Homo sapiens: one gene and its partner. The protein of the gene in region 1 binds, or shares a complex with, the protein of each later gene. Each region holds a gene or a part of one and is shown on either strand. Other genes may lie near its edges. The genes, in order: MCHR2 and PMCH. A codon is read from its position in the direction of its gene.

What was found.
Region 2: the proteins of MCHR2 (region 1) and PMCH are in contact, whole or in part, in a cryo-EM structure (PDB 8WST), measured with the Homo sapiens proteins. Residues at the interface, in NP_001035269.1 of Homo sapiens: His82, Gln92, Trp93, Gly96, Gly97, Thr110, Asp113, Gln117, Ile175, Phe177, Val181, Ser183, Cys184, Ala185, Phe186, Leu188, Thr189, Ser190, Pro191, Val194, Tyr197, Thr198, Tyr267, Gln271, Asn274, Met277, Glu278, Gln279, Pro280, Phe284; in NP_002665.2 of Homo sapiens: Leu151 (codon at 12,678), Arg152 (codon at 12,681), Cys153 (codon at 12,684), Met154 (codon at 12,687), Leu155 (codon at 12,690), Gly156 (codon at 12,693), Arg157 (codon at 12,696), Val158 (codon at 12,699), Tyr159 (codon at 12,702), Arg160 (codon at 12,705), Pro161 (codon at 12,708), Cys162 (codon at 12,711), Trp163 (codon at 12,714).

Annotation. Positions count from the first base shown.
Region 1 is NC_000006.12:99,987,784-100,003,510, forward strand, and holds the start of MCHR2 (melanin-concentrating hormone receptor 2), read right to left. Parts: upstream 6,441-15,727; 5' UTR 6,153-6,440; exon of another isoform or gene 5,981-6,152; intron 1-5,980. UniProt on the Homo sapiens protein: Receptor for melanin-concentrating hormone, coupled to G proteins that activate phosphoinositide hydrolysis.
Region 2 is NC_000012.12:102,194,427-102,209,376, reverse strand, and holds PMCH (pro-MCH preproprotein), read left to right. Parts: upstream 1-11,543; 5' UTR 11,544-11,606; coding exon 11,607-11,855; intron 11,856-11,856; exon of another isoform or gene 11,857-12,205; coding exon 12,206-12,404; coding exon of another isoform or gene 12,405-12,412; exon of another isoform or gene 12,413-12,675; coding exon 12,676-12,725; 3' UTR 12,726-12,918; downstream 12,919-14,950. Other genes in the region: PARPBP (PCNA-interacting partner), read right to left, coding at 13,086-13,426, 13,930-14,065. UniProt on the Homo sapiens protein: MCH may act as a neurotransmitter or neuromodulator in a broad array of neuronal functions directed toward the regulation of goal-directed behavior, such as food intake, and general arousal. May also have a role in spermatocyte differentiation.

The DNA of each region.
Region 1 (15,727 bases):
AAGTCACTTCATTAGCACCCCAAAATAAACACTGTTTTAAAATTTTTCATGGGGGCACAAAAGGTTATTTTTTATTGATAAGATTGGCAGGCCAATATTGAAAGAAAAGAAAAGGAAACAAGAGACTAACAAGTCTATAGAGGGTTAATCATTTTTTCAAAAAGGCTTTAAAACAGGAGGCTAAGTTAAAAATCATTAGGGATTATTTGCATCTCTGGAACTAAGGCAGCCATAGACTTCAGCAGAATATTTAACTCATTTGATGTCCCAAGGGATGGATTCATTGCAAGAGTTTTCTGATTTGGTTCTCTATGGCTGGTGTGTAAATCATTTGGGCTGTCTCCTACTGTCAGTTTCAGAAGACCCAGCCCTAAATAGCTTAAACATAACAGTGAAGTCCATAGGGTAGACTTTCACAGGGGAAGACAGGGTGGTACTTTCAAGATTGCTTATTTCAGTGGCCTAATGGTGACATCAGAGTCCAGGTCTTTTCCTTCTTTTCCACTGCAGCTATCCTCAGTATACAAATCTTTTCCAAGGATGGTCCCCACAGGGATACCAGATGATTACAGCAGCTAGTCCTCATCCTCATGTAAGCACAATAAAAGCCAGAAAGGACCATCCCTTCTTTGTGGACATTTTAAAGAAAGTGCAGTCCTTTCCCAGCAGCCTCTTTTGCACACTGGCCCACAAGTATCAATGGCTGGAATTGTGTCACATGCTCTTTGCCAAACCAATCATTGCATTGGTAGGAGGAGTGAAATTACAGTAATTGGTCTAAAATAATCTCAATTCATCCCCCCACCCACAGGGCTAGAAATGGACACACACTTGCCTGAAACTCAGAGCCACCCAAACTCAAGGCAAGGAAAAACGAGATAATCAATCAACAACATTTCTCATAGGTAGAAATAGAACAGAAAGACCTTCCTTTTACCCTCTGCCTCTCACTTTTGAACATTCTTAAATACTATAGAGGATTAGAAGACACATCACTCCATCTTTTTTACGTGCATCTTCTAATAGTTGATTGTTATTGGGCACAAGTTGCTACCAGCAGGCATATAACTTTTTCCATATAATGAATGGCATACTGGGTTTCTCTTCCAGAATGGCCATCAGGTAGTATTTATTTATGACTAATGTTAGCTTCTCAAGGCCGTTATGAGTCAATTAAGAGACCAGCCTGAATGTCTCCATGAGCTAAATCGATATTTACCCACATGCATGTACATAGTCATACTTATGAAAACACTTATGACTCCTATGAGAAAAATAAATATTAAACACAGGTTAAGAACAAGCACTTCCAATGGCTGAAAGAGGGTCTAAGATCATATGAAATACACCACAGGTTTAAAATTACTACCTACCAGAAGGATCATTTGAGCCCAGGAGTTTGAGGTTACAATGTGCTAAGACTGTGTAAGTGCACTCTAGCCTGGGCGACAGAGCATGACCCTGTATCAAATTCAAAAAAAATTATTGCCTAGATTTTCATGAAGGAAGACATAAAAAACAAGATAAAGAGGTAAAGTACCAATTTTAAGCAAGATTTATAGAATGTTTGTAATGTGCCAGATACTGTGTTAAGTACCTTATGTACATTACCTCATTTAAAGTTCACAGTCAGATCAAAGGTAAAATTACTATTATCTTCATTTTGCCAAAGAGAATACTGAGGCTAAGAGGGTGAGGATATTGCTCAGGTTCCTCTGTAAGTGAGTGGTAGGGCCAAAAATTGAACCCAGTTTTGTCAGGCTCTAAAACTATGTGCTGACCTTTGACCTCTACCCTGAGAAGACGATGGGAACAATGGTCCCCCTGAAATGTTTCCTCTCTCTTTAGGGTCCAAAACTGCTCCTGAAGAGCTACATAGACTTTGCTTAATAAGCCATCACTGCTGCTTGAAAGAATCAAGACATATTTCAAGAACATTACATAAGTCTCTGATACAGAGGCTCTCTGTAAACAACAAACTGTACTCACCTTCCACTTTTTGAAAATATAAAATATTTTAGGCAGAATTTATGCAATGAAATGCCTTAATAGTACACAATTTTATAACATTTTTATTTGAAAAAATGTTTTTATATGTGCTCCGTGAAATAATCTCCCTCAAAGAGAGCAGCTTCTTTTAAATTTCCGAAGAATTTTAGTTGGAGAAAAAATTCACCTAGATTTTTTTAAGTAGCAATATATAATCTTTTTACATTTCTAAGATTAAAAGGCATTTTCAACCAAGTAAACTTGCAAGTTCATTGGCTTTAAAAAACAAAAAAAAAACTAAATTCCATCTTAATGAAAGTGAGCAGAGCATTGTAAATGAATTAGCTCAATTATTTAGAAGGTTTGGGATGTCAGGTATATTTAGAACAAGGTGGGACCCAGGTGATGAGATTTCAGTGTTTTGCAACCTTACATTAAAATTGGAGTAATGAGCTACTAAATGTGTCAGACTTGAGTTCAGCATAGCAAAAGCTTTGCCAATATTTTACATGCTTAATACAAATCCCAAAGATAAAACTTGTTCTCATAAAACAAGTGGTTTCTATCTGTCTCTCTTAATGTTAGAGTCATAGGATAAACACACTATTTACCCTGTATGTGTGTGTGTGTATTCATTTACCCTGTATGTGTGTGTGTGTATTCATTTACTTCAATGATGATCAGATAATCATGCCAGAAGCTAGTATTCAAGAGAAACTTTATTAGTCCTGAGAGTATAGAAAGATTTAAAAATGTATGTTAATTAAGTAAAATGTACGGTAAAGTTATTTGGAACTGTATTTAATGAAATACACAATTGTTACTGAGCTGCATGGCAATTAGCTGTAAGTCATAAGAAATTTACAAAAGACTGTCATTTCATCAGCATTAATTTTACACAATCAATCTAACTTTTAAAAACTTTTCTATAATCATAAACTTTTCCCTGGATAAAAGCCATTTACATAATTCTGTCTCCTCTCTGTCTCTCTCTACATTTTTTTTCTTATCTTCCTGCCCTTCACCAAGACAGAGGAGACCCAATCCTGGACCCTGCCCAAGGCCTCAGTATCCACCTCTCCTCCTTCCCACCCTGATGATCAGGGTATCAGCTGCTTGGAAGCTCCAGGCCCTCGGTTCTTCAGACCTTGGAGCCACATCTAGTATGTCCTTAGATATGCATCTCCTGCTTTATTTGGAGGGGTCTTTATGAGATTCCCAATAATGTTGGGATGGGACAGAAAGAAGAAACCCAAGCATGTGGTGAAAGGGTGGTAACCCCAGGGAGAGAAAGGGCATATGCCAATGGTTCTGAAATTGTAGCATCGAACAGTTTGGGGTCAGAGGAGTGAGAAGGTGCGGGCATGGAGATAAAGAGTGGGGAAAAGAGGGGAGCAGAGCCGCCTATGGGGCCCAGGACCTCCACAGGAGACCCTAGCGGTGAATACATGCTCTCCAGGCACAGCTTCTGGAAGATTTAGCCTCAGTGCATCCTCCTCAGGGAAGCTGGGAGACAGATGGGGCTGGAGGACAGAGCTGCTTGGGCTTTTCCTGACAGCCCTCACCAGCAAAGCATACAGGCCTTCCTAGAAGACTTTGATAAATTTGGACCTAATCTTGGCTCTGTCATTTTTAGCAGTGTGACTTTAGGTAGTCACCAACCTGTCTGAGCCTCAGTTTCCCCATAGGTGAGGTGAGAATAATACTCTCTACATAGTTATCGTGAGGATTTAATGAAATGAAGCATCTGAGGCCGGGGCGCGGTGGCTCACGCCTGTTAATCCCAGCACTTTGGGAGGCCGAGGCAGGTGGATCAGGAGGTCAGGAGATCGAGACCATCCTGAGCAACATGGTGAAACCCAGTCTCTACTAAAAATACAAAAAATTAGCTGGGCATGGTGGTGGGCGCCTGTAGTCCCAGCTACTCTGCAGGCTGAGGCAGGAGAATGGCGAGAACCCGGGAGGCGGAGCTTGCAGTGAGCAGAGACCGCGCGACACTGCACTCCAACCTGGGTGACAGAGTGAGACTCCGTCTCAAAAAAAAAAAAAAAAAAGAAAAGAAAAAAGAAATGAGGCATGCGAACATTGCCTAAAACAGAGCAGGCTCTTGACAAAAGTGTTTTTCTTTTCTTCAGCCCTGAGGCATGAAGAAGGTTCTTCTTCTCATTTCCAGCTTTGCTCTAATTTCCCCACCTGTATATATTTCATTTCATTTCTGAGAATCAGAATGTTAAAAATAAATGCATAAGGGATTGGAGATGAGTAAATTGGAGGCTGAATAAGTGATAGCTTGGGTTTCTTCCAGCTGGGTTGAAGGAAGAGGAGTCATGTTGGGTGAGGGGGTGTCACTGCGGAAGGCAGAGGCATCCCGGCATCTTCAGGGCACAGGGACATTTTCCATCCCTTGTGGAGTGGGAGCTGTGACTGTCCCTTGCAGGGATTTAGGACCTCTGACTAGACAGTGTCCTGAGCCATAGTTCTAATGGGCATCCAAAGGTCCTGTGAAGGGGGAGGCTCCCTCCCGCACACCTGACTCTAGGACTAAAGTGCTAGGCTGGGGAATTTGGGGTCTGGTAGGATAATTGCTGCCTCTTATGCATTTAGCCCACAACTTGGGTTAAATCTACAGGCTTGCCTCTCAAAATAGACACTGGACTTAGCAGTATACACAACAGACCTCCCCTCAAAATCTATTTCTAGTTTTTGAGGAGAGCCAGGCTGACACTAAAAATGAAATTGGTTCTCTCACAGCATCTTGGACCCGTAGGATTGTTCCTGGCTCCTCTTTACAGTGCCTGGTGGCTTTTCCTTCCCTATTCAATCTCCGTTTAACTAACTACATTAATATTTCAGAAACATTCTGTGGCCTGTACATTGGTGGTACTTTATTCCCCAGGCTTGAAAAACTTTTTTCTTGTAATTGGAATGCTTTGTGCAGTCTAATAGTCTGTGTTAGGCTAAGAGTCGAATAACATTGCCCTTGTAATTATCTTGTCATAGCCATAAGACAGTAAGTGAGGGCATGTCTGCTCTGCAAAAGGCCAATTCAATTGTGACATTAAACATATGCCTGATCCAAATGAAACACAAATAATGGGTTACCAACCCAATCCAGTCATTTCCAGCCAGTCAGCATCCCCACCCCCCCATCTCTACCCACTAAGTTATACTAACAAACAGGTTATTATTTAAGTAGAAAAATGCATTATTAAGAAGTCAGAAAACATTCATTGAAAACAGATTGCCTCCCCATTTGCGCTGAGCTAAGTTCTATGAAATTAGAACTGCGCATTCCTCAAATCCAGAAGATTTTGTGTTCATGCCTGATTCTTTAGTGGTAGCTTCAGGGCCATTTTAATAAGAAGATTCCACCTCAAACAAAGATATTAGGCTTTGGGGCAAAGCCTCATTAAAAAATACAAGAAGCACATTTTTAGAAAGAATTTTTCAAAGGCTGTCAGAAGCCCCAGCTGAGTTGCAAAGGGCCTAGGCTACCACCTGCCTACTTTCCCCAGTTCTCTGACAGCCGCTAACTAACTTCCCTAGGGCCACTGAGGAGTTCAGATGACCTGACCGTGCAGGAGTCCTGTGACAGAGGAATAATATTAACTAAGTTAACTAAGTGGGAATGGGGGCTTCACAGAAGGCCGTCCGGAGGCGCGTACAGGGGACACGGGGATCTACCTGGAGGAAGAACTGAATTTGTCTTTTCTAGTTCAAAAAAGCCTTCCCGAACTCTTAGCAAACAAGCCAGTGATCGCCTCCTCGCCTTCGCCACTTCAGTTCAGCCTCTTTAGTCCCCATGGAGAGCCGGGATGAACTAGCCCGGCGCGCTCCAGCGGTCTCGGTCGGGGCCGCTGCTTCCCGGAAAGCCACTCCCTTTTTCTTTTCCCACCTGTGTTTCCATTTTCTTTGCCGAGTGTGAAACCAGCCGGCCACCCACCCGCCCCGCTCCGTCTCGTAGGTGCCTCCACAGAGCCAAACTTTGTACCTTCTGGGGATGGAGGGGGATCCCCCAGCAATCAGACACTACCGGCGAGCCAGCCCCGGGGAGGGGCGACTGGTGGACCAGGCGCCAGACCTTCCCGGGCGCGCAGCCCACGGGCCCTGGGGCGCGCCCACGCCAGAGCCCGGCCCTCGCGCGGCAGCCCGCGGGACGTCACCTGGGTGCTCGCGTCCTCCCCGCGCGGCGGACAGCCCGGGCGCCCTTCCTCTCTGCGGGACTGCAGGTCTATCCGCTAAGCGCGCGTGACCAAAAACGGCTCTCAGCGGGTCCCAGCTGACGGAAGGTGGGGGAGGAGTGCGAGGGTCTCTGAGACAGGTTGGGAGCCAGCCCCACCTCCATTTCCAAAGCGGGGGTCCAGGCACAGGAACAGCCAAACGCCCGAACCAGCGGGGTTACCTTTGCCACTTCATCCAATCCGAGCATCGGGTGCGTCGTGCTCTTTTCTAGGAGCGTGGGGTGCCTTCGCGAATAAAATCTGAAGGCATCTCTGCTCTCGCGGAGCTTGTTCTTTCTTATTTTCAAGTGCTTATCTAGACTGGTAGTCACTAAAGTTCCTGTGAACATTTGTAGGTGTTTTCAGCTAAGCAGTAATAGAAACTCGACCTCCATTTTATATGAACAAGTGTTTATTGATGTACCAAAGGTTTAAAGGAAGGGAAAGGGGAAAGGAGAGAGGAAAGAAGAAACCCATAATACCACCAAGGAACTTGTTTTGTTTTCACGAACTTTTAATCCACCCAGTACAACTGCTTTATAATGATCTTTAGCTTCATGCTTGCACCCTGATCAAATCTGCTGGCCTTAGTAGCTACTTAGCAAATAAGGTGACAAGGACGAAGCTGGAGTTGGATCACTTTCCACCCAAGGGAGCCTCATACGATTTTGGAGACAGGCAGCCCGCCCCGCATTCCACCTCAGCTTTATCATTTACTGTTAGGCATATGACCTCGGGCAGGTTCTTTAATGTTTCTCATCCTCAGTTGCTCATTTGGTACTACCAGAATTGTAAAACTGCCCTCCCAGGGATGCTAAGAGGCTTCACTGGCTTGACATATGCAAAAGCCCTCAAATCAGGCCTGCCATGTAGTTAGTGCTCAATATGTGGTCCCTATGATAATTATAGTCATTAGAGCACCTTTCAGAATCCTTCCTTCATCTATAAGATGAGTAGTCAGAGTGGCATGGCAAAATGTCCTGTATTTCACATTAAGTTAGGAAAATGAGAAAAACTTGAAAGGTTAGTGAAATTGGTTAAAATTTCAAAATTCAACAGATCAGAATTTTTAAAAGCAAGTGTAGAGTCAATGATTATACATTTCAGAACTGGAAGTCGCCTTAGAGTTAGTGTTTGTGCAAAAAGACATCATCTCTAAAATCTCTCAGAAAAATCAAGGAGATATGAGGATGGGAGATTAAATTTAAAGAGAATTTGGATTTCAAAGTGGGAGATTTCAAAGCATCTCTTAGGAAAGAAAAACAAGAAGAAACACTTGACCCATTTATTAGGCTGATTATCTAAACGCCCTCTACAATACCCTTGTGGAAAAGCCTTTTCTAGTTCTCTAATAATATAAAAATTCAGTCCACTATAAGTTTATACACCTTATGTTTTTTTCCAAGTTAAAATTTTGATGTACATTTTCCTGTTCAACTTTCCTATCCCTGACCAAATGTTAAGTCGTTTCAAAGAAAACTCAGAGTGGCTTGTCTTGAATTTCTCATTTGTAGGCAATCCATTTTAAAAAAGACAGGAATATTGGCAATGCCAATTTTTGCTACTTCAATTCTTTGTTCCAGTGATTGATAATGATGAGGATGATGATGTTGACGAATTCTATCTAGTTGTGTACTCTAAATGAAGGATGAATAAATCTCATTTTGTTGTTGTTGCTAAATTGAAAAGTGAAGAATACTTTTTTTTTCTAGCCCAATATATTGTATTGTGTTTTATGGAGCATTGGTGGCTAAAAAGCCTGTGCTAGACGTCACTATTTAGGGAAATATTAGCATATGAGGCTTAATTGCATCCTTGCTTAAGTTTGACAATTTCTATTGGTGTCAATGGAGGATATGTGGCCTTACCTTACATTTTGGTGCCACTTTTTATGCATACTTTAAAAGGTATCATTACATTATTTTTATAATAATTGGAAGGTACACAAGATGGGTGTTATCCCATTTTACTAATAAAGAAACTGAGGTTAAAAGTTAAAGTAAACCATAGACAGTGAAACAGAGGCTGAACCAGAAATAGAATCCCACCTAATTCTCACCCTGGACCTTGAGCTTTCTGATGAGGTAACATTCTTTAGATAGCAGTAGGAGAGCCAGAATGCCCAGTTAAAACCCCACCCCTGTAAAGTCCCTGCCTTTTTTTTCTCAGCTGGAAACTGGGAAGTTTGTCAGACAAAGCTCTTCAGGTTACTGGCAATTTATGTGCTGGGAGGTGGATTTGTGGGCAGAGCTCCGGCTGACCTGGTGTTGTCCTGCTATGGCTACAGACTTCTGACTATGCTTATCAGAAAAACTTTCATTTGGTTCAAGGATTTTTGGTGAGTCTCATTAATTCTGGTTTTATAAAAATAAAAGAGATTGGTGCAATGACTGACCCCTCATGCTGATGAGAATGAGGCTTATTGTGTTCCAAACGTGTATATACCATGGACTGCAGAGTGTCCGCAGCAGGTCCTGATCTCTATTCCTTCTCATTAAGGGATTGTTCAGGAACATCTCTCTGCTGACTTGGCATGGCTTTCTTCTGAGGACCCAGGCTGTTCTTGAGCTCCTCACTGGCCTGGGCTGGGATATTACTTGTCTCTGCAATCATCTGCTACCCAGCTTGGTCTTTGGCTCTGCACTTCCTCGAAGCACAGTCTCTGAGAACTTAGTCTTAATCATCCACTCCTATCAAAGCATCTGATTCCCTCCAAAATCCTTTGCAGAATCCTGACTGAGGCTCTCTAGGAAAATGATCTCTCTCTAAACTGAACCCGCTGTGTCCATATTGACTCTATAAGCTGAATTTTCATTGAGTTTTCACAACAGAAGGGATTTTAAAGACCTATTAACAAGAAGAATTTCTGCTAGGAATCTAGTAGTGGGTTCCATTTAGATTATAATATTTTAAATTGTCTCTCAGGCTGCAGCATCTCAGGAAATTAGCCTGAATTAGGAAATTCTCAGAAAGTTAGTCAGATGTCATTTTGTGCCCACTAACATAAGCATTGCATAAAAAGCAGTGAGATATTGCAGTGTTTCCAAAAGTGTGTTCTGTGGAGCACTAGTTCCATGAGATGATCCATAAACAAAGAGTTTTGTTGTGAGACAATTGTTGGTCCTAGCTCTTTAACCCCTCCTTGGATCCACTCCTTGCAATGGCCTCACCATGGATGGAGCATATTTCATCACTCCCTGACTTTGGGCTTGGCTATGTGACTTGCTTTGTCCAGTTGAATATGGATTACAGACACAGTATGACAATTTTAGGAGTAGGACTTAAGAAACTTAGTGCATTTTCACTGCCTCTTTTGTACCTCTGGCATTGTCCAAGAAGAACATGTCCTGGCTAGCCTGCTAGGCCAAGGAGGATGAGAGAAGCATAGAAAACACAAATTCCCAGGCCTGCTGCTTGAAGCAGAAGTGTTCCAGTCAAACTTCAGCTCTGTGAGAATACATGAAGATTGTTCTGAGACACTGAATTTTGGTGTGGTTTGCCATCTGGAATTATTGTGGCTGTAGATAACTAATATAATAGTCAAAAGAGTTTGGGACACATATAACTCCCTCTTCTCAGAGTCATAACCCACATTAATATATTAAAGGCTCTGAGAAGGACTGCATTATTTCATTACTTCCCAAACTCATTTCATTTTTTACCTTTATATTATAATAATATTATATAAAATATACACTTTAGATTAAAAAAAAAAAAACAAAGAAGAGCAGTTTGCCTAAGTCCTAAACTTGCTATTAAGAAACGTGGATGAACTCTTAGAACAACTGACAATGATTTTCAAGCCTTACCAATCAATCAGATTCATAAAGTTTACTTACTAGTAAATCCCCATTTACCTTCTCATGGCTGCTGAATTTCACATCAGTGACTTGTCTGGTATGGCTCTAAATTTCTAAATGAGTAAGAATTATTTTCCACTTCTGGTGCTAGCCAAATTTCAGAATGATTTTATAATCAGTATAAAGAACATTCATTTTTTAAGTAAATGACCAATGAATTATATTGATCAATTTTAATTAAATTCTTTTTTTCAAATAACATGACTAATATTTGCTATTAAAATTACTTAGCAGCTATGTTGGTGTTAAAAATGAGAATGAATAACCTAAAATACTGGCTGATCTCTTTTTCTCTTAATTTTTGAGAAATGGGGAGCACTTTCAGGAGAATTCTTTTTCAAGCTTAGTCACAATGCCAAGGCTTGGGACTGCTTTCAAGCACAAAAGAAAACACATGGGTTTCAGGAAACATATAGAAAACACCTCCTTTTTCATTTAATTTGGTAACTATGATGCATTGTTGATATCTGTTTATATTCCCTAAGGGGCCTTGGCCTGTGCTTTCATTTCAAACACAGGTGCTCATGTTCAACACCATTGGCAGTGATGTTTGTACAAGAATTTATTTCTTTCCAACTTCTTGAAGAATGGTCATAGCTTATCATATAAGCTGTCTCAGTAAGCATAAAACATTATGACCTGGAATGTCTTAAAACAAAGTGAAAAATCAGTTGACCTTTTATACTTTTCTTCCTTCTTCTAAGTGGACTTCTTTCTTCTCACTATATTTGCCCCTAGCTGGCTGGTCTATGGTAAGGTGCTATCTATTAACTAAAGCGTTAGTAAAATTCTTTCATTTTAAAAATCTTTCATTTTATAAGTGGTACTTTTAAAAGACATTTATTTCCAATAATAAAATGCTTGGAGAATTATTCCAGATACTAGGGGTACAAAGATGAACAAGATATCATCCCTGCCAATGAGGACCTTCAAATCTTGTGGTGAAAATAAACACATGAATAGTTACAGTGCAAATGAAATGAAAGTATGATATGCATTCTTAAGATAGAAGTAAGACATGTTAATTGAGTATTCTTAAAGTAAGTCATTTTTATGAGTTTGCTCATGTTGGCTAGCAGAATTGTGATGTGTTAGTGAGTTGAGGTATACAGCCTAGTTTTTATTCTTTGAAAAAACATGAAGGGTGCTTTACCTTGGGTTCTAAGAGAGACAATCACCACGATTCACTGTGAACTACTGCCTTTAATATTTGGAATGAGAACTACATACTCTACTAAACAGTTTTCCTAAGCCTAGTTATAGATAATAAACTATGTATAATATAAATAGAGAAAGTGGATGTTAATATCCAACTCCATCCTTAGGAATTATGAGAAACTTTGAGGAAACAAATTTAAATGAACTGTCTTTGGCTTAATCCACTCTGTATTTCTCCTGCTGCATCAGGTTCCGTAACCCTCTGCTATGTCTCCAGTGCTTCTTGGGCTAAGGTAGAAATACCAGGGCTGGTTTTCAGTCTCAATTAATTTGCACAAGTTTCGCTTTGGCTTCAGAGTTTATAGGGATAATTACCTCCCCAAATGCTCTGGGAAATGCATGCTCTTATTACAAGGGTTACCATATATCTCAGTTTATCTGGGACAATCCCAATTAATGCCTACTGTTCTGGTGGGACTATTAGTTATATCTTATGCCAGTGTAATGGATTAACGGGGCAGCCACCTATTAGTCCTGCTCACCCTGTGGGAAAGGGATGGGAGTGTTATAGTCTGCTCCCTTTGTCTTTGAGATAACAGCTGAAAACAGAGCAGAAATGTGGGTGCCATGAAATTTCCTGTGTGCACATTAATATCTTTCTTGGGGGGCAGTAGCTCAGAATTCTAAGGTTTTACCATTTCATGTCCCCATCAAATTAGCCTCATATCCTTTACCTCCCATGCATTCATTCTTTGAGAGTGAAATGTTTAAATGCCTGCATTTAATATTTACATTTGTTTTTTGAATTATTTTTGAATTATAATGATTTATAAATAATTTATAAATGACCTTCATTTTACTGGAATAGATATTCAGAGAATGATTTAATTTACTCAGTTTTAGTGTAGCACCACCATAAATCCAAAGGGAAATTGAAGAGAACTCACTGGTTTACTGTTTCTCAATCTTGGTGAATTTCATCTCTTTATTTCAAAGATACATTGTGTCCTTGTGTATTGAGTAAAAATAGCTCCACTATCTAATAACAAAGGCATACTGTATTTGACAAATTCCAGATTATAAAACATGTTTATAGTGGAATTGATAAAATTCATAGTAGCAGTACAGTAGGGAAGACAGATCTATGTAATGGGTCTAGGTATGGATTGGAATCAAGTCTAAAGGCCCCTTGTGTAAGTTGTGTGCTTTGAGGGAAGTCATTTAATGTTTTTGAGCCTCAACTTCATTATGGATAAAATGAGGAAGTAAAACTTGCCCTACCCACCTCATAAGGCAACAAATGTGATTAATGTAAAAATAATTTATCCAATGCAAAGCACTATGTGATCATAAGTGGTAGCAGAGAGCTCTGTCCTTCAGGCTATTTAGAGGTATTATACTCACAGAAGAAAAGATATCCACTTGAAAAGTGAGATTTCGTAGTCTATCTCTCTTTCCATTGGCAGTTCCATTCCCCCTATACAGACTAAAGCTCAAACAAGTTCAAGCCAACAAGAATTTGTCAGGAACTGATCAGGATACAGCAATGGGTTTGAGGTGGGCAGAAACTGCTAGTCAATGGGGCATTTCAAAGATGCTAGTGTTTGCAAATTCTGTACCACTGGTTCCTACTCTTGCCAGTGCCTGAACTTGATTTGGTTATAAAGATAAATAAGACATGGTTCTGCTCTAGGGAGCCCACAATTCAATGAGGGAGACAGACATACACAAGTTAATTTCAATATAATGTAATAAAGAGTATAATTTTTTTTTTCATCTTCAGCTGACAAGTTTATTTAATCCCTGAACCTGGATCCAAGGCATCTCCCTGTAGAAAACATCAGACCGGGGCAGAGATTGACAAAGCAACCCAAAGCAGCAGCTGCCAACGGCCGCTGTGCCCACCTCATCAGCAGCTAAAGAGTATAATTTTAAAAAAAGTCACAGAAGAATGTGGAGACACTTAGCAAAACGGACTCTCATAAGGTAAGTTTAAAGAAAGATTTCAGGTGCCAACGATATTGTGTATGTCTGAAAGCCTTCTGTAATGATCATTATGGCACAGTTCTCAGGTGTAACAAAGGGTCAGAGATTACACCTCCTTGCTCCTAGCATAAAAATAACAACCACAGATTTTGTTGTAGAACACACCAGTGCCTAATACCTCATTCGGTCAATTACTTGCTACATTTCTGAGCTTCAGCTTCTTCATCTGTGGTGCAGGGGTAATCATATCTACCTCAGTCTACTGGAATGTCAGCTCTACAAGGGCAGGGACTTTGGCCTCTTTTGTTTATTACTGTGTCTCCATCACTTAGAACATGGTAAGCACTATGGATGTTACCTTATATAGGAAGTACTTACCTGGCCCATGGTAAGTACTCAATAAATATTAATAGTTGTGGAATTTGTTTTGTAAATGAAGGTAGCTATTCATCTCCCAATCACCATTTTTTTTCCTAATTTTAATGAAGATCCACAGTAGAGTCAAGGAGATATTGGACCAGGTCCACTGGTTTACTCTTTGCTTCTCAATCCTGACCAATTTCACCTTTTTGTCTTTCAAGTATGTATTTCAAAGGTACATAGTGTCCTCGTGTATTTAGTAAAAATGGCTCCATTACACAAGACACAGGCAAAAGGCAATGGACAGACCATGCTCATGATGCTTCCCCGTGTATATCCATGTGGTCTGCCATGCTGCAATGTCCTTCCCCGTTGAGAAATTTGCAAGGATCTGAAGACTCAGGTCTGTATATAGAAAGGGTATCATCAAATATGCTTACTTTTTCTGTTTTTCAATGTTTGGAGTCTCTGTTTTTATAAGTGTACAGTTATTCTGAAAACAACCTTTTCCCAAATTGTCAGAGAAAAAACTGTGACTATGCTAGAGTAGTTCATCCATCAAGCTACATCCTTTAAGTACTTTCTCATCTAAAGGATTGACAGATTGCACATTTCACTGGAAAGCTGTCACACAAATATTTCCCTGGAGAGTTGGTAGCTCCAGAGCTTGAGAGTCGGATCTCAGAACGGCAAATACCTCATTGAGAACTAGCTCTAACACCAAATGCAGTTCTCCCGACTGGCCACTTGGTGGCAGTGCCAACTAAGTGCCAGCTCAAGCCATTAGATTGCACACAGGCATGTGATTCCTAACTTCTATTTATTCATTCAAATTTTAGGACCTACAAGTGGTTTTTGGTCAATCACATGGGCTAAGGCAAACTTTGCTTACTGACAAAGAGACTACATGACAATTTTAAAATACATTTCTTACCCTAATTTATGACATTATGTTAGGCCCCCAGTTAGGATACACCTGAAAAGGTGAATAATGGCAATTTCCTCAGTGTCTTTTAATAATCTCTATCTTGACATTATACATAGGTCAAACATAATCCAGGTCCTATCCCAGAACTGGTTATTACCCTGAACTTCTCCACCTCATAAATCTTAAACTCTGTTCTCTGACCACAAACATCTATCTCTCCCTCTTTGCTGTTACAGCAAAGGTGTGCTTTCTCAGAGATCACAGTCTCTTGAGCCCTTCTCTTTTTTCCTGTTTTCCATGTTCCATAGTCCATCCTGCAACCCTTCTGTGTTAGGGTTCTCCTGAGAAACAGAATGAATAGAATGTAGATGGTAGATACATAGATTAGATTAGAGCTAGATAGATATAGAGATAGATAAAGACTTATCATAGAAATTGGCTCATATAATGATTGTGGAGACTGAAAAGCCCCACGGTCTGGCATCTGCAAGCTGGGAACCAGGAGAACTGGTGGTGTAACTCCTGGTCTAATTCCTTAAGTCCGGAGAACCAGGAGCTCCAATGTCCAGGGGCAGGAGAAGACAGATGCCCCAGCTCAAACGGGGACAGTGAATTCACCATTAGTCCACCTATTTGTTCTGTGCAAGCCCTCAATGAATGGGATAATGTCCACCTGCATTGGTGAGGGCATGGGCTCACTGCTGCACCTCTTTTGCTGTGAAGTGAGTTTCTGGATCAGAAACAATGCTGTGTGGAAAACCATGATGGTGGATAAGGCATTCTGTGAATCCACAGATGACAGTTTTGGCAGAGAAGCATTGCAGGTGAGAAAAGCAAGTTTGTATCCAAAGTAAGTTTCTATTTTAGTATGGACAAAACACTGCCCCTTCCATGATGGAACTGGTTCAGTGAAATCAACTTGCCTCCAGGTAGCTGGATGATAACCATGGGGAATGGTGTCATATTGGTGTTCAGTGTTGGTTTCTGCTGCTGGCAGATTGGGCACTCAACTGTGGCCATATCCAAGTTGACTTTGGTGAGTAGAAGTCCATGTTGCCGAGCTCATGCATAACCACCATCTCTGCCATCATGGCTACTTTGTTAATGAGCCCATTGGCCAATGACAGAAGTGGCAGGAAAGAAAGAGACTGACTGGTATCCACAGGACAGGTCATTCTATCTACTTGATTATTAAAATTCTCCTTTGCAGAGGTTACTCTTTGGCA
Region 2 (14,950 bases), on another chromosome or scaffold:
GTCTTACACTTTAATCCCTCTTGGGTTAATTTTTGTATATGGTGAAATATAGAGGTCTGGTTTCATTCTTTTGCAATGTGACTAGCCAGCTATCCCAGAACCATTTATAGAATAGGGAGTCATTTCCCCATTGACTATTTTTGTCAACTTTGATGAAGGTCAGGTGGCTGTAGGTGTGCAGCTTTATTTCTGGGTTCTCTGTTCTGTTCCACTGGTCTATGTGTTTCTGTTTTTGCACCAGTGCCATGCTGTTTTGTTTACTGTAGCCTTATAGTATAGTTTGAAGTCAGGTAATTTGATGCTTCCAGCTTTGTTTTTTTGTTTAGGATTGCTTTGGCTATTTGGGCTTTCTGTTGTTGTTGTTCCATATAAATTTTAGAATAGTCTTTTCCAGTTTTGTGAAAAATGATATTGATAGCTTGATAGGAATAGCATTGGACTTGTAGATCGCTTTGGACAGTATGACTATTTTAATGATATTGATTCTTCCAATCTGTGAGCGTAGAATAGTTTTCTATTTGTTTGTTTCCATCTGGGATTTCTTTCAGCAGTGTTTTGTAGTTCTCCTTGGGGAGATCTTTTACCTCTTTGGTTATTTGTATCCTAGGCGTGTGTGTGTGTCCATGTGTATTGTAAATGGAATTGCATTCTTGATTTAGCTTTCAGCTTGAATGTTATTGGTGTATAGAAATGCTACAAACTTCTGTATGTTAATTTTGTATCCTCATACTTTACTGAAGCGCTTATGAGTTTCAGGAGCCTTTTGGCAGAGTCTTTAGTTTCCTAAGTATCGAGTTATATCATCAGTGAAGATAGTTCGACTTTTTCTCCTATTCGCATGCCTTTTATTTCTTTCTCTTGCCTGATTGCTCTGGCAAGGACTTCCAGTACTATTTTGAACAGGAGTGGTGAGAGTGGGCATCCTTGTCTTATTCCAATCTCAAGGGGAATGATTCCAGTTATTGTCCATTCAGTATGATGTTGTCTGTAGGTTTGTCAGAGATGGCGCTTATTTTTTGAGGTATGTATCTTCAATGCCTAGTTTTTTGAGGGTTTTTATCATGAAGGGATGTTGGATTTTACTGAAAGCTTTTCCTGTGTCTACTGAGATGATCATATGGTTTTTCTTCTTAATTCTGCATATGTGGTGAATCATATTTATTGATTTTCATATGTTGAGCCAACCTGCATCTCAGAAATGAAACTTACTTGATCATGGTGAAGCAATTTTTTATGTGCTGCTGTATTTGGTTTGCTAGTATTACGTTGAGGAGGTTTGCATCTGTGTTCATCAGGCATATTGTCCTGTAGTTTTCTTTATTCATTTTGAATGTTACCCCTAAAAGAGTCTTGGCAGATGTGACTAAGAATCTTGAGATGAGGAGATAATCCTGGTGGGCCCTAAATGCCATCACATGAATCCTTATAAGAGAGAGGCAGAGGAATATTAGGAACAGACACAAAGAGGAGAAGGTCATTGAAGACAGAGCAGAGGATGCTACCACAAGGCAGTGAATGCCAACAGTCACCAGAAGCTGGAAGAGGCAAGGAAGGGCTCTCCCCTAGAGTCTCTGGAGGAAACACAGTCCTGTCCACGCATTGATTTTGGGCTTTTGTTGCCTTAAGCCATCAAGTTTGTGGTAATTTGTCACAGCAGACCTAGGTAATAAGTAAATACTCTATCATATTCTAGAACCTATCATAGTTTCTACCATCTGTTCTCTTAATGAAAAAATAATTCATACATTTATTACATGTTTATTGAAAGGCTACTATGTGCCAGACTCTGTTCTTGATACTCTGTTCTTGATACCATCTCCCTCACTGGCATTAGAGGAAATGGACAATAAGCATGTAAACAAGTAAGATAATTTTAGACAGAAGCACAGTGAAGAAAATAAAGGAGTGAAAGGAATAGGGAAAGAATGAGTGGGAAGGGGGCTCCTTTAGCTCATAGGGTCAAGGAAGCACTCTCAGAAACCATGATATTTGAGCTGAGCATCACAATAATGAGTGATAAATGCTCAGATAAATAACAGGAGAAAGATGCTCCTGACAAAGAGAATAGCAGGGAAAAAGTCTTGCGTCAGAAATGATCTTGGCATATCATAAAAACAGAAGGCCAATATCACTAGAGAGTGACGAAAGAGGGACAGAGTAGCAAGAAATAAATTTAGCAAGGAATGCATGGTCCAGGCCATGTAGGACATTTGTATCAATTATCTATTACTATAGTAATATGGTGTAACACATGCAAAACTTCAGAGGGTATACAACAATAAATGTTTATGTCTTATGCTTTTTGGGTCAGTTGGGCATCTGCTAGGCAGCTCTACTGACCTCAAGTGGACTTTCTCCAGTGTCTGGTGCTTGAATGGATGTGTGCTGATCGAGGATAGCCTCAGCTATGGCAGTTAGGGTAGCATGGCTCTCCTCCATGTGGCTCTCTCCAGCAGGCTAGCATGGGAATGTTTTCATGGTGGTGGCAGAGGCTCAAGAGGGAATTCCCAATGTGCAAGACCATTTCAAGCCTCTGCTTGCATGATATCTGATAATATCTCATTAGTTAAAGCAAATCACATGCCTGAAACCAGAGTCAAACAGTGGGCAGGTTACCCCACCCACAGTGGGAAGGCATGCCAAAGTTACATGGCATGAATATAGAGAACAATGAAAAAGTGAAACCATGAAGGCAAGCTTATGCAGATATTTAGGGCCTTGATAAATTAATAAATATAAGAAATAATTATATTTAAACAGGATGATAATGTATTACACATGTTGGAGTTCAGACAAGAGGATTTGGCTGTAGTACTCAGAGAAAGCTGCAAAAGGAAGGTCTTGAAGGATATTTTAGATATAGATAGGTGGAGGGACAAGATGAGGGTATTTTAAGAGCAGGGAATATCATAAACAAAGTTATGATGGCAAAAAAGGACTACAAATACATAGAATGAAAAGAATGGCATGTATATCATTATCAAGACACTTTCATCTGATCCAATCTCTATCACAAACAGAAGAAAATGAAGCAGAACAAATGAATCACATGTTCCTCCTACATAGTAAAACCACTACATTTCAAAATGTTTTCAGTCTAGAGTTCTCAATATAAGTAGAAATGTCTGAGGGTTAAAGACATCCATGAGTACAAACATAAATTCCTAACATGTGTTAGAATGAAGACTCAATACACTACTTACCATAATGGTGAAGAAACCTGAAATTATGAATCAATGTATACAAAATAACAAGCTTTGTTGGTAACCCAATGTTGAAAGCTATCATCAGATTGTTATTCTCGAAGCATACTATCAGATGACTCCAAAAGTACTCAGAATCAAAACAATATCCAAGAATCATCTTTACAAGGTAACTGAAAAATTTAGCCATGAACATCATTTCAAGCATGTTCACATAACTTTTTTTTTTTTTAATTGAGATGGAATCTTGCTCTGTCGCCCAGGCTAGAGTGCAGTGGTGCATTCTCAGCTCACTGCAACCTCCACTGTCCGCATTCAAGAGATTCTTGTGCCTCAGCCTCCCGAGTAGCTGGGACTACAGGCACATGCCACCACAGCCGGCTAATTTTGTTTTTTTTACTTTTAGTAGAGACGGGGTTTCACCATATTGGCCAGGTTGGTCTTTAACTCCTGACCTCAGATGATCCATCCTCTTCAGCCTCCCAAAGTGCTGGGATTACAGGTGTGAGCCACCACGCCTGGCCTTACATAACTCTTAATGTTACTTATATCTTGATTTGTGGCAAAAAGATGTTAAGGCAATTTTCAAGATATTAGTCTACAGCTCTAAAAATTGGTGATGTGTAATTCACTACAACTGGTTTCTTCATTTCACTTTTAAAATAATTCTGTTTGGATGACACTAAGAGCAACATACCATCCAGTAACGAGATCCAGGGAAGCAGCTAGTCCACTAGTACTCATAGACAGAGATGAATTCAAATGTGCATATAATTAACCAAAAAGAGGAAACTATATCCATAATTCAAATCCACATTGTTGCAAAATAAATATTTAAATCAATTCATCCATGTTTACCAGCTGTAACAGTGGAACAAAGCTTGAGGATATCCACGTTCCTACTCAACTGGTCTCACAGTTACTGGACTAATTACAGTGGAGCATCATAAACTCTCCCTGTGTCTCCCACCCCACTATCTCACAAACCAACTGCATTGAGCATGGTGAGAAGATACCTTACCCACTCCAATTCTTGGAGCAAAACAAGAGCTTAACCATCTTCACCACTCTCAGCTGGCCCCCATATCTCGCGTCTCTAAGTACTCTCTACAAGCCCACATGCTGGAAGCCTTGGATCTCTCTTCTGAGCCTTCAAATTAAAAACAAACAAACAAAAAAACTCAAGTTGACTCTTCTCAAAGAAAGAAAAAAAAACTGGAGGTCAACTTACCAACCAAATTCAAACTGTCTCAGAAGGATAACCTCCTAATTTTATTGCTGAATTCTGAGTGGCCTAAACGCCTACCAGGAGCTACCCTTCCCTGCCAACTACATCAACTCCACACACACACACACACACACACACACACACACACACACCTTCTAAGGGAGTGTCAGGACTAATTCCCTTGCTAGCCAAATTACCACACCTTGTTCTCTCTTACCCTTGCTCTCCATCCAGATATGAGCCCCTCTAGATATCTATCCTCCCACACTTTCATCTCTAAACAGCACTGTGTTTCTTCTCTCTTCTCTCTCCAATCTTTGTACTATACCTTCTGAATAACAAATACCCTTATAGCGTTCTCCACTTCACTGATCCCATTACCACCACACATACTTAAGAGTTGGGAAGGAGGATGAATGTCTATTTTATTCCATACTGTTTACAGCATGTAAATCCTTTTGTTACTTGAGTCCCACAAATTCAGCATAGCCACTTCTTATCATGCTACAATATCTTCCATCTTTAAATAGCAATAGCCAACTCTCTTCCATCTACAATCTAATTTTTCTGCATTCTTCAGTGTAAATCGGTGACATACTATTTATATTCACTGTTTCCATTTGTTCTCTTTCCATTCTTATTAAATTCTCTCCTATCAAGGTTGAATCTCTACCAGTGTCATTGAAACTGCTTCATTAAGGTCAGCAATGACTATCACATAGCCAAATCAAAGATAAATTCTCAGTTCTCATCTTACTCAACCAGTAGCATTCAGCACAGCCAATCATTGTGCTTTTCTATATTTGAGATGATCGTGTTTTTGTCTCCTGTATTCATTTACAGTGGTGAATTTTACCAATTTTTTTCTGAAAGTTCAATTTTACATTCCTGAAATAAACCTCACCTGGTCATGAAATTTTACCTTTTTCATAACTGGATTCTATTTGATAACATTTTGTTTAGGATTTTTACATCCATGTTCATTAGAAATATTGGCCTATAATTTTCCCTTCTTGTAATAGCATTATCAGGTCTTGGTACCAAATTTATGCTAGACTCATAAAAAGAGTTGGGAAGTGTCCGTCAGAAGTCAATCACAGAAGCAGAACAACACACATACATATTCACATATACAGAAATATATACACAATTTGTTACATAAATCTGTCTCATGCAATTGTGAAAGCTAATTAAGCAATATTAAGCAGATCATTCCATCTAATGCTGGAGTCCACAGGGCAGGCTGCCAGGAAGGAAAGATGGATGTAAAGTAGGGAAGAAGAAGAACATACTGGAATTCACCAGCATGAGCTGAAACCCATGAGGATAGACTGAAACTCATATCATATCTTGCTGCATCTGACCTCAATGGTATGGATGTCCTCAGGACAGCTAGTCTCCTTTGTCACAGAACTGCACACATGTGTCCCAGGAGTCAGAGAAACTGAAAGTGGATCCAGCGAAAGTGGAGCAGTCGCAGGTCTGACTGCTGCAGAGCCAACGACATGAGCCAGCAGATAAGCGACATCATGTGTGAACCGTACGTGACATCTGCTTCACTTCTGCTCTCCAATCTTATACAGGAATGTCTCATGTGGCCCACTCCAGTTGGAAACATAGATAAAGAGAAGAAAATTCTGGGGTTGGGGGGAATTTCTGGGGTGGGAGGAATATATATGTAATATATATAACTCTTACAACTCAGTAATAAAAAGAAACATCCCTCGCCCAACAAAATGAACAAAAGATCTAAACAGACACTTCACAAAAGAAAATATATGAATAGCTAACAAGCACATGAAAAAGTGCTCAACATCATTAGTTATTAGGAAAATGTAATTAAAACACGATATCACTACTCATCTACCAGAATGGCTAAGATTAAGACTGACAACATCAAATGCTGGTGAGGATGTGGAGCAACCAAAGCTCTAATACAGTCTTTGTTGAAGTATAAAATGGTACAATCACTTTGGAAAATAATCTAACAATTTCTTACAAAATTAAAGATACATCTATCTTATATCCTAGCAATTCCATTCCTATATATTTACCCAAGAGAAATAAAAACACATGTCCACAAAAAGACTTGTGCAAGAATGTAGATAGTGTTATTCGTAATAGCCAAAAACTGGATACAATTCAAGAGTCCATTAACAGGAAAAGAGACAAGTCAATTGTAGTATATTTATACAACGGTAATAAAAAAGGAAGGAACTACTGCTTCTTACAACATTAAAGATGAATGTCAAACATGCTGAGTGAAAGAGGCCTTCCATAAAAGACGTCATACTGTATATTTCCAAAATAGGCAAAACTAATTCACAGCAGAAGAAATTAGAACAGTGATTGTCTAAGAGCAGAGTTGGAATGACGGGTGGGAGTGGGGAAAATGGTGGTACATGTAAACTCTAACAAGGTAAGACATAACTTTCTGGGGTGATGGCAATGTCTTGTATCTTGAAAGGACTTTGGGTTTCATAAGCAAACACATTTGTCAAAAATTAGCAAATATGCACTTATAGTTTATGCATTTTACTTTCCATAAATTTTACTTCAAAAAAAAGCTGTAAACAACTATTAAATTCCAGTTAATGATACGTATGTTGAAGTATTTCATGAAAAGCATACTGATATATGCAATATCCTTTGAAATGCATTAAAAGAATAAGATGATTAATAAAGGGATGAAGGGATAGAAGTAAAACGTTAATGGTAAACGCTAGGTGAAAGTGTATGGGTTGTTTACTATAGAAATCTGAGAAGGAATTTTAAGTTTTCTTATATCTTTTGATAATTTATATAAGTGAGCAATCTTGTTTTTACACTCATACAATTAGCCACTAAGAAATTGATGATTCTCAGTAAGCCAATGGCCAATTGCCATTTAATTTACTGGTGACACATAGCAAAGATGTGTTAATTGGAACAAAGAGAAATTTAATAAAGTGACTTGCAAATATACAGTGTTAGCAGTAGTTCAACAGAAAATGAAGATCATATTTTATATAAGCCTTTTGCCTTTGTAAGGTTTACTGAACCACCCAAGCCCATCTGGCAATAGTTTTACTTCTCCAAAGTTCCCTTCTACTACTTGGGGACATACCATTTTCAGCATCAATGAAAAAGAAGTCTACTATGCTCCACTGCACATCACAGTAACCAAAGTTTTTTTTAAAAAAAGTTATCATTAAAAAAATTGGAAACTATCTCCATAATTAAATGGTTATGGCAAAACCTCATAATGCTCAGAGGCTATGACAGTTTAAACAAAATAAAACATTAACTTCTCTAAACCGTCAAAATCATTTGGATTTGGTCCCAATTTTGAGTGAAGATCAGCCAAGCCAATTCATCCAGTGGAAATTTAAAACAAAGTACATAATTATTAATATTTATTACCCTCCCACAACAGCATCTAAGAAAAAAGATTTCCATTAACAAGGACTTTTTTTTTTTTTTTTTTTTTTTTTTCCAGACAGAGTCTCGCTCTGTCGCCTGGGCTGGAGTGCAATGGCACCATGTTTGGTTCACTGCAACCTCCGTCTCCTGGGTTCAAGCAATTCTCCTGCCTCAGCCTCTCCAGTAGCTGGAATTACAGGCACCCACCACCATGCCCAGCTAATTTTTATATTTTTAGTAGAGATGGGGTTTCACCATGTTGGCCAGGCTGGTCACAAACTCCTGACCTCAGGTGATCCACCCACCTCGGCCTCCCATGGTGCTGGGGTTACAGGCGTGAGCCACCGTGCCCAGCCTAACAAGGACTTTTATAGATTAAACAGGCACATCCAAACCAGGTTCAAACCAAGGGAAACAAAGTAGGGCACAACTAACAACATTAAAAAGATAAGGAAGCTCTAAGATCAAAGAAGTCAAGGGATGTCAGAGTCCTTTGTTTATAATTATAATCACAAAACATTTACTGAGAAAGATCTTAATAGTCCCCGAGAAAATCAGCAGTTAAGTCTACCTCAGATAAAAAGTACTTAAGTGAAATGGACAAATTATACAATAATGTAAATTCCTAAAACAAACTAAAAAAGAAACAGAGAAGCTAAATGTTACTACAGCTACTGAAGAAAGTACATCAATTCTTAACAACAAAAATCCTACCAAGAAAACACCAAACCCAAAGTCTAACAAGAGAGAAAAGAAAGAAGGATAAATCTTGCCCTCAATGTAAGAAATTGGTACAAACTTAATATCAAACCAAAGTCAATATAAAAAAGGAAAATTACAAATCAATCTTACTCATAATAAATGTAAAATGTACTAAATCAAATATTGCCAAATTGAATCCGATAATTTAAAGGTTTCTTCATGAACACATGGTTAGTTTAACATTAGAAAAATCTGTTAATATTTCCAAAGACTGAAGGAGAAAATGATCTGGTCATCTCAATATATGCAAAAAAAGCATTCAATAATATTCAACAACAATTCATGATAAAAACTATTAGTAAGCCAGAAACAAAAGAGAACATCCTGTACTTTATAGCAAGTATCTATAAGAAACCTACAGCAAACATTACGCTCAGTGGTGAAGCATTAAAATCATTATCTGTAAAATCAGTAACACTGTAAAGATATCTCTTCTCTCCATTTTCAGTATTTACTGGAGGCTTTGGCCAGTGTGTATGAACACATGAACAGACACAAAGACATGTATACACAATATAGATGAAGTTAGGAGAAAGAGATAAAATGCCATTATTTTATCATTTATATCAATTGTCTTCATACAAAATCCCAAAGAATCTATACATTTATAAACAATTAAAAAGAAAAAAAAATAAGAGTTTAGAAAGTTTTTTTCTGTTATCAAATTACTATGCACAAGCCAAATGCACATGCACATACCAGCAATAATGTTAGAAAGATCATTTCAAAATACAATTTATAATAACCAAAAATAAGAAATTCAATTAAATTATAAAGAATTATAATTCTCTCAACAAAGGTATGCAAGACCTTTATGAAGAAAAGAAAATGTCATTAAAAGATTAAAGAAGAAAAAAAGATTAAAGAAGATCTAAGCAAATACAGAAAAATGTCATGCTCATAGATAATAAATTACCTTCAGGATATCAGTTCTTCTCCAAAATTAATCTATAAATCTATAAAACCAATGTGATTATAAGTTGAGCATCCCAAATCTGAAAAGCCAAAATCCAAAAATGCTCCAAAATCTGAAACTTGTTAAGCATTAACAATATGCTAAAAAATATATATTCATTGAAGCATTTCAGATTTCAGATTTTGGGATACTTAACTGATATAATGCAAATGTTCCAAATTCTGAAAAAAATATCCCAAATCCAAAAATACTTCTGGTCCTAAGCATTTCAGATAAGGGATACCTAACTAGAACCTTAATATCCTGTCAAGTGTTCTTACGGAACTTGAAAAGCTGATTTTAAGATTTATATGGAAAAGAAATGACTAAGAATAGCTAAGGAACTGCTGTAAAAGAAAAACATGTGGGTAAGTAGAGGGCTGGGAAATTTGACCAGATATTAAAAATTATTTTAAAGTTATATTAATACTGTAGATTTGGCTGTGGAATAGAACGTTCTGAAAGGAGCCCACACATATATAGAAATCTGATATACTGTAGAGATGGCACTGCAGATTAGTGGGGACAGGATGACTTCTTCAAGAAATATATAAGGACATTGGAAAAAGTAAAATTACATCTCTATCTTATATCATACACAAAATTACAGATGAATTACAAACCTAAACATGAAAGTCAAAATATTTAAACTTTTAGAAGAAAATATATGAAAACACGTTAATAATCTAAGGATTGAGAAGGATTTCTAAAAAAAAACAACACATTAAAAGTAGTTGCCATAAAGAAAAAAGAAAAATATTTAAACATTAAAATTAATCAGTTTGGTTCACCAAAAGACACCAGAGGGGTTGAAAATATGTCACAAACTGAGCGAAAATAATTGAAACATATATAACTAACAATTAATATCCAGAATATATAAAGAACTCCCATAAATAAATTAGAAAAAGACAACCCAATAGAAAAATGGACAAAGCCAAAAAAGAAAAAAAAAAAAAGCATTTAACATAAGAGGAAACATAAATGGCTCAGAAACATATGGGAAGACACTTAACCTCTTTGGTAATTAGGAAAATACAAATTAAAAGGACAATGAGACACAAGAGTCAGCTAGGACATGGAACAATGGAAATTCTCATACCCTGCTTATCGAGGGCACAAATCGCTTACAACTATGTTGGAAAACATTTTGGCATTAGTAAAGCTGAACATATACATACTCCATGATCCAGTAATTCCATACTGAGAAATATACTCTAGAAAAATTCTTACATATATGTACCAGAAGACATATAAAAGAATGTATTATCTTATTCATTGGGGTCAAAATTAGAAATTAACTCTGAAATGTTTAATTAAAAGTCATACAACATAAACTCATCATCCAAAAGTAATGTTTATGGGCACATAAATATTCTTTTCATGGACTAATTCATTAATTTCTAAATTCATTAATAAATATTTGTACATATTATCCTTTTGTAAATGCAGAGATAAAATACACCTGACAGGTCAATTTTTGATATAGCATGAATGGCTTTTTGTTCACACTGACAGGCATATGTACTTTAATCACCAAAAACTATATCAAGTATTTATAAAAGAAAGTCTCTTTTGAGGATTATTTCAGTTTAATCAGGATTAAAAGGAAATAAAACTTTATCCTTATCATCCTTGAGTGAAATAACTTGAGTTTTAATATCTTTACTTAATCAGAAAATACACAAAAGGAAACAATAATATAGAGAGAGCCTGATGTCCTGTGGTCTTCCTTAATAACAACCCATTTTCAAGAGACTATAATCTACTCAACAGAAAGCATTCTACCAAGGATCTTAGTCAGATTCTGAGAAAATTCACACTCAAAATAAACAATGTGTCACTAAAACCAAAACAATGTAGGTATTAGCAGCTGCATAAAGGTTAGCCTCAATCTAATGAGTCATTTCTAAAATGATGAAAAGTATAATTCTTTGAAGTGCTTTCTATTCAAGCTAGAAAATATATAAAGATACAGAATCGTTTACCAAGCAGGCTGACAGAGAAATTTTTCATTTTCTTTCTTGTTTGACTGTATGCAAACATCAAACTAAGAATGGCAAAAATGAATCTCTCTTCCTATATATTAATACTAACTTTTTCTTTGTTTTCTCAAGGTATTTTACTTTCAGCATCCAAGTCCATAAGAAATTTAGATGATGACATGGTATTTAATACATTCAGGTTGGGGAAAGGCTTTCAGAAGGAAGACACTGCAGAAAAATCAGTTATTGCTCCTTCCCTGGAACAATATAAAAATGATGAGAGCAGTTTCATGAACGAAGAGGAAAATAAAGTTTCAAAGGTAAGTGGCAATGTGACTTGTCGTTTATTTCAATGAAAATTTAAATGATTCTTACAAATCCTCTGAAAAGTAAAACTGATACTTTTATAAACAGAAGTATATGCAAACAGTCACAATATGCATTAGGACGACTGACGATATTTCTTACATGCCAGGTAGTTCTTCCATCCCAGCAAACACCTCTTATCTGAAAGTGTTTTTTCTCCTATAAATTTGCATCTAAGGTATTTTTAAAAAGTCAAAAACAGTGCAGAGTAACTTTGAATTGATCAACAAGAATATTATACAATTGTATTATAGTTCCACTCCGAATACGATAGCTAAAAACCAAATCAACCTTCTCTTTACAGAACACAGGCTCCAAACATAATTTCTTAAATCATGGTCTGCCACTGAATCTGGCTATAAAACCTTATCTTGCACTAAAAGGATCTGTAGCTTTCCCAGCTGAGAATGGAGTTCAGAATACTGAATCAACACAAGAAAAGAGAGAAATTGGGGATGAAGAAAACTCAGCTAAATTTCCTATAGGAAGGAGAGATTTTGACAGTGAGTAGTCTTTTCAAAATTCAATTCTTACATCCTACCACCATTAAACAGAACTCTGAGTTAAAGTGAATTTGGATGCAATCATAACAAAATCAAATAAGACCATGGCTCAATTACACCTGCCAAAAATGTGGGATTAAATAGCAACAATTAATTATTATCATTTTGGTTTACTCAGAATTAGTTATACTAGATCCATTCTTTTTTTCTTAATAAATTTTGTGTGATAATTATAGTCCTTTAAACAATTTAAACTTTCTTCTTCCTTCAGTGCTCAGATGTATGCTGGGAAGAGTCTACCGACCTTGTTGGCAAGTCTGATACCTGTTGGTCCACATCATCTTTTCAGAAGAAAATAAAAGCATTTAATTGCCAATGGGAGGAGAAGCCCATACTGCTACTATAACTTGTGTATGTTAAATGTCTGTTTTAAAAGAAAGTAGTGTTAAGATGTATCAGTAACTGAAATGATATGCTTTCTCTGTGCATTAAACTTTGTGAAAATTCTGCATAATTATGACTTACTAGTATTTTTAAACAATGCTTAACATACTAACCTTACATACACTGTAGACCAAAATAATAAATCATCATAATTTACACCTTGATCTCTTAAAAATTAAGCATGTCTTTGGTGAATGGTTTATAGATACATAAACCTAAAGCATATAAGACACAAATTTATAGTCTAAAAAACTGAGTTAACTTTGCCTGGCCAGAAATCAACTTGTCCTTGGCAGTACATTTATTACTTTTTGCTACTTTAGCTAGTTTGCCGTACAATCTATTCTGTGAATCATTTGATTTCTTAGGTATTTTAGCATTTTTATGTTGAGGTGGTTCATTTCTATTATCACAGAGAATATTTTCACCATCCAAATCCACCTGTTTCCTTTTTGAGCTTTTATTTCCTGTCTGACTGGTTGATTTTCTTGATACTTTTTCATTTTTACTTCTGTCCAGATGAACATTTCCAAAACTCGTTCCAATTGTTGATCTTCCAACAGATGGATTTACACCCTCTGTTATGCAAGATAAAAAGGGGAAAGGAATTACATGATATTGAGTATTAATATTTACGAGAACTTTACAATAAACTTTAAAAATGGCTAACGAATATTCAAATTTTTAAAGTAAAATAATGCTATAAATAATATGATTGACAAATATAGCTACATTACTATCCTATTACTTTTCATTTTATCATAGCACCTCTGAGTTAGCTTTGGCCAGTAATCAACTTGTCAGCCCTATTAAGAAATATTTGTTTGAATGCATGACATTTAATCCTTAAACATATGCTACAAATTACTTCTTAAATACATTTAGTTAAATCAAACTGTGTCCTATTCCTATCGATAAATTTGTACTTAGATTTAACTTTTTAAATAAACTGAGGTCTTTAAAAATATTACCCTTTACATTTCATAGTACTTTGCAAAAATAACCTAATTTTACTTAAGTTAAAACTAATTAGTAGACTAGAATTAAATTGTTATTTAATTGCACAAATAAGGTCAATTACCAGAAAGGTCATTTTCCATGTAAAGAACACACAAAGGCTTTGATGCTAAATTAACATTATTCCAATTATCCTTGCTTATCATGTAGTCATCTTTATAAGTACAAGCAAATTGGGATCTAATTAAAGTTTGCTTCATCTAGTAACAGAAAGAAAGAAGAAAATATGCAAATTTATTCATTATTTTATTTCTTCATCTAGATAGACACACACTCTATAGTAATCAAGGTATAAAAATTTCCCTTAGAAATTCTATTACTCATTGAGAACCTCTCTCTAACCTTTTATATTTCATAGTTTGCAAACTCATTCATTGTTATGGCTAGCATTTTTGTTCTTTTCCAAAATAATAGCTTTATGTATATTTTTGATTTTTTTTTTGGTAACAGTTACAAAACAATCAATTTTAGACTCTTCGCAGGGCTTTGTTACATGTTCCTGTGTCAGCACTGCTTTGGAGCGTCTTATTGTAAGTAAAATAACAATACAGGTGATATACATAATCATAGAAAAATACAAGTTCTTCATCCTAAGAAGAACACACTCTTGGAAAAAAAATAGCATATGGAATTCAAGAAATTAGGGAGGGAAGAAATGCTAAGATGAAAAAAAGAACTAAGTGAGGTCAATCAAAAACAGGAAACTAGCAAAGAAACTGCAAGATAAAACAAAATGATATAGGAAAGACATTATTTCTCGAGTATTTAGGAAAACAAGAAAGATGATTCAATGTATCAGTCTAGAAAGATTTGACCAAGTGACTTAATGGTCAGAAATCCAAAGTATACTCTTGCATTTATCTTCAAACATCAAATAGGAGGGCCTAACTTTCTACATAAATAGGAGAAAATTACAAAGATGAACTCAATTCTTGATCACTGAAAAGGATGCCAAAAAAAGTAGTTTTGGAAATTTGTTCCACAAACATAAACCAGTGAGCTATTGGGGATAGAAATTAATTTTAGAACAAAGTAGCCTATACAAATAATGCCAATTTCAACAATTACAAATGATGTGTAATACC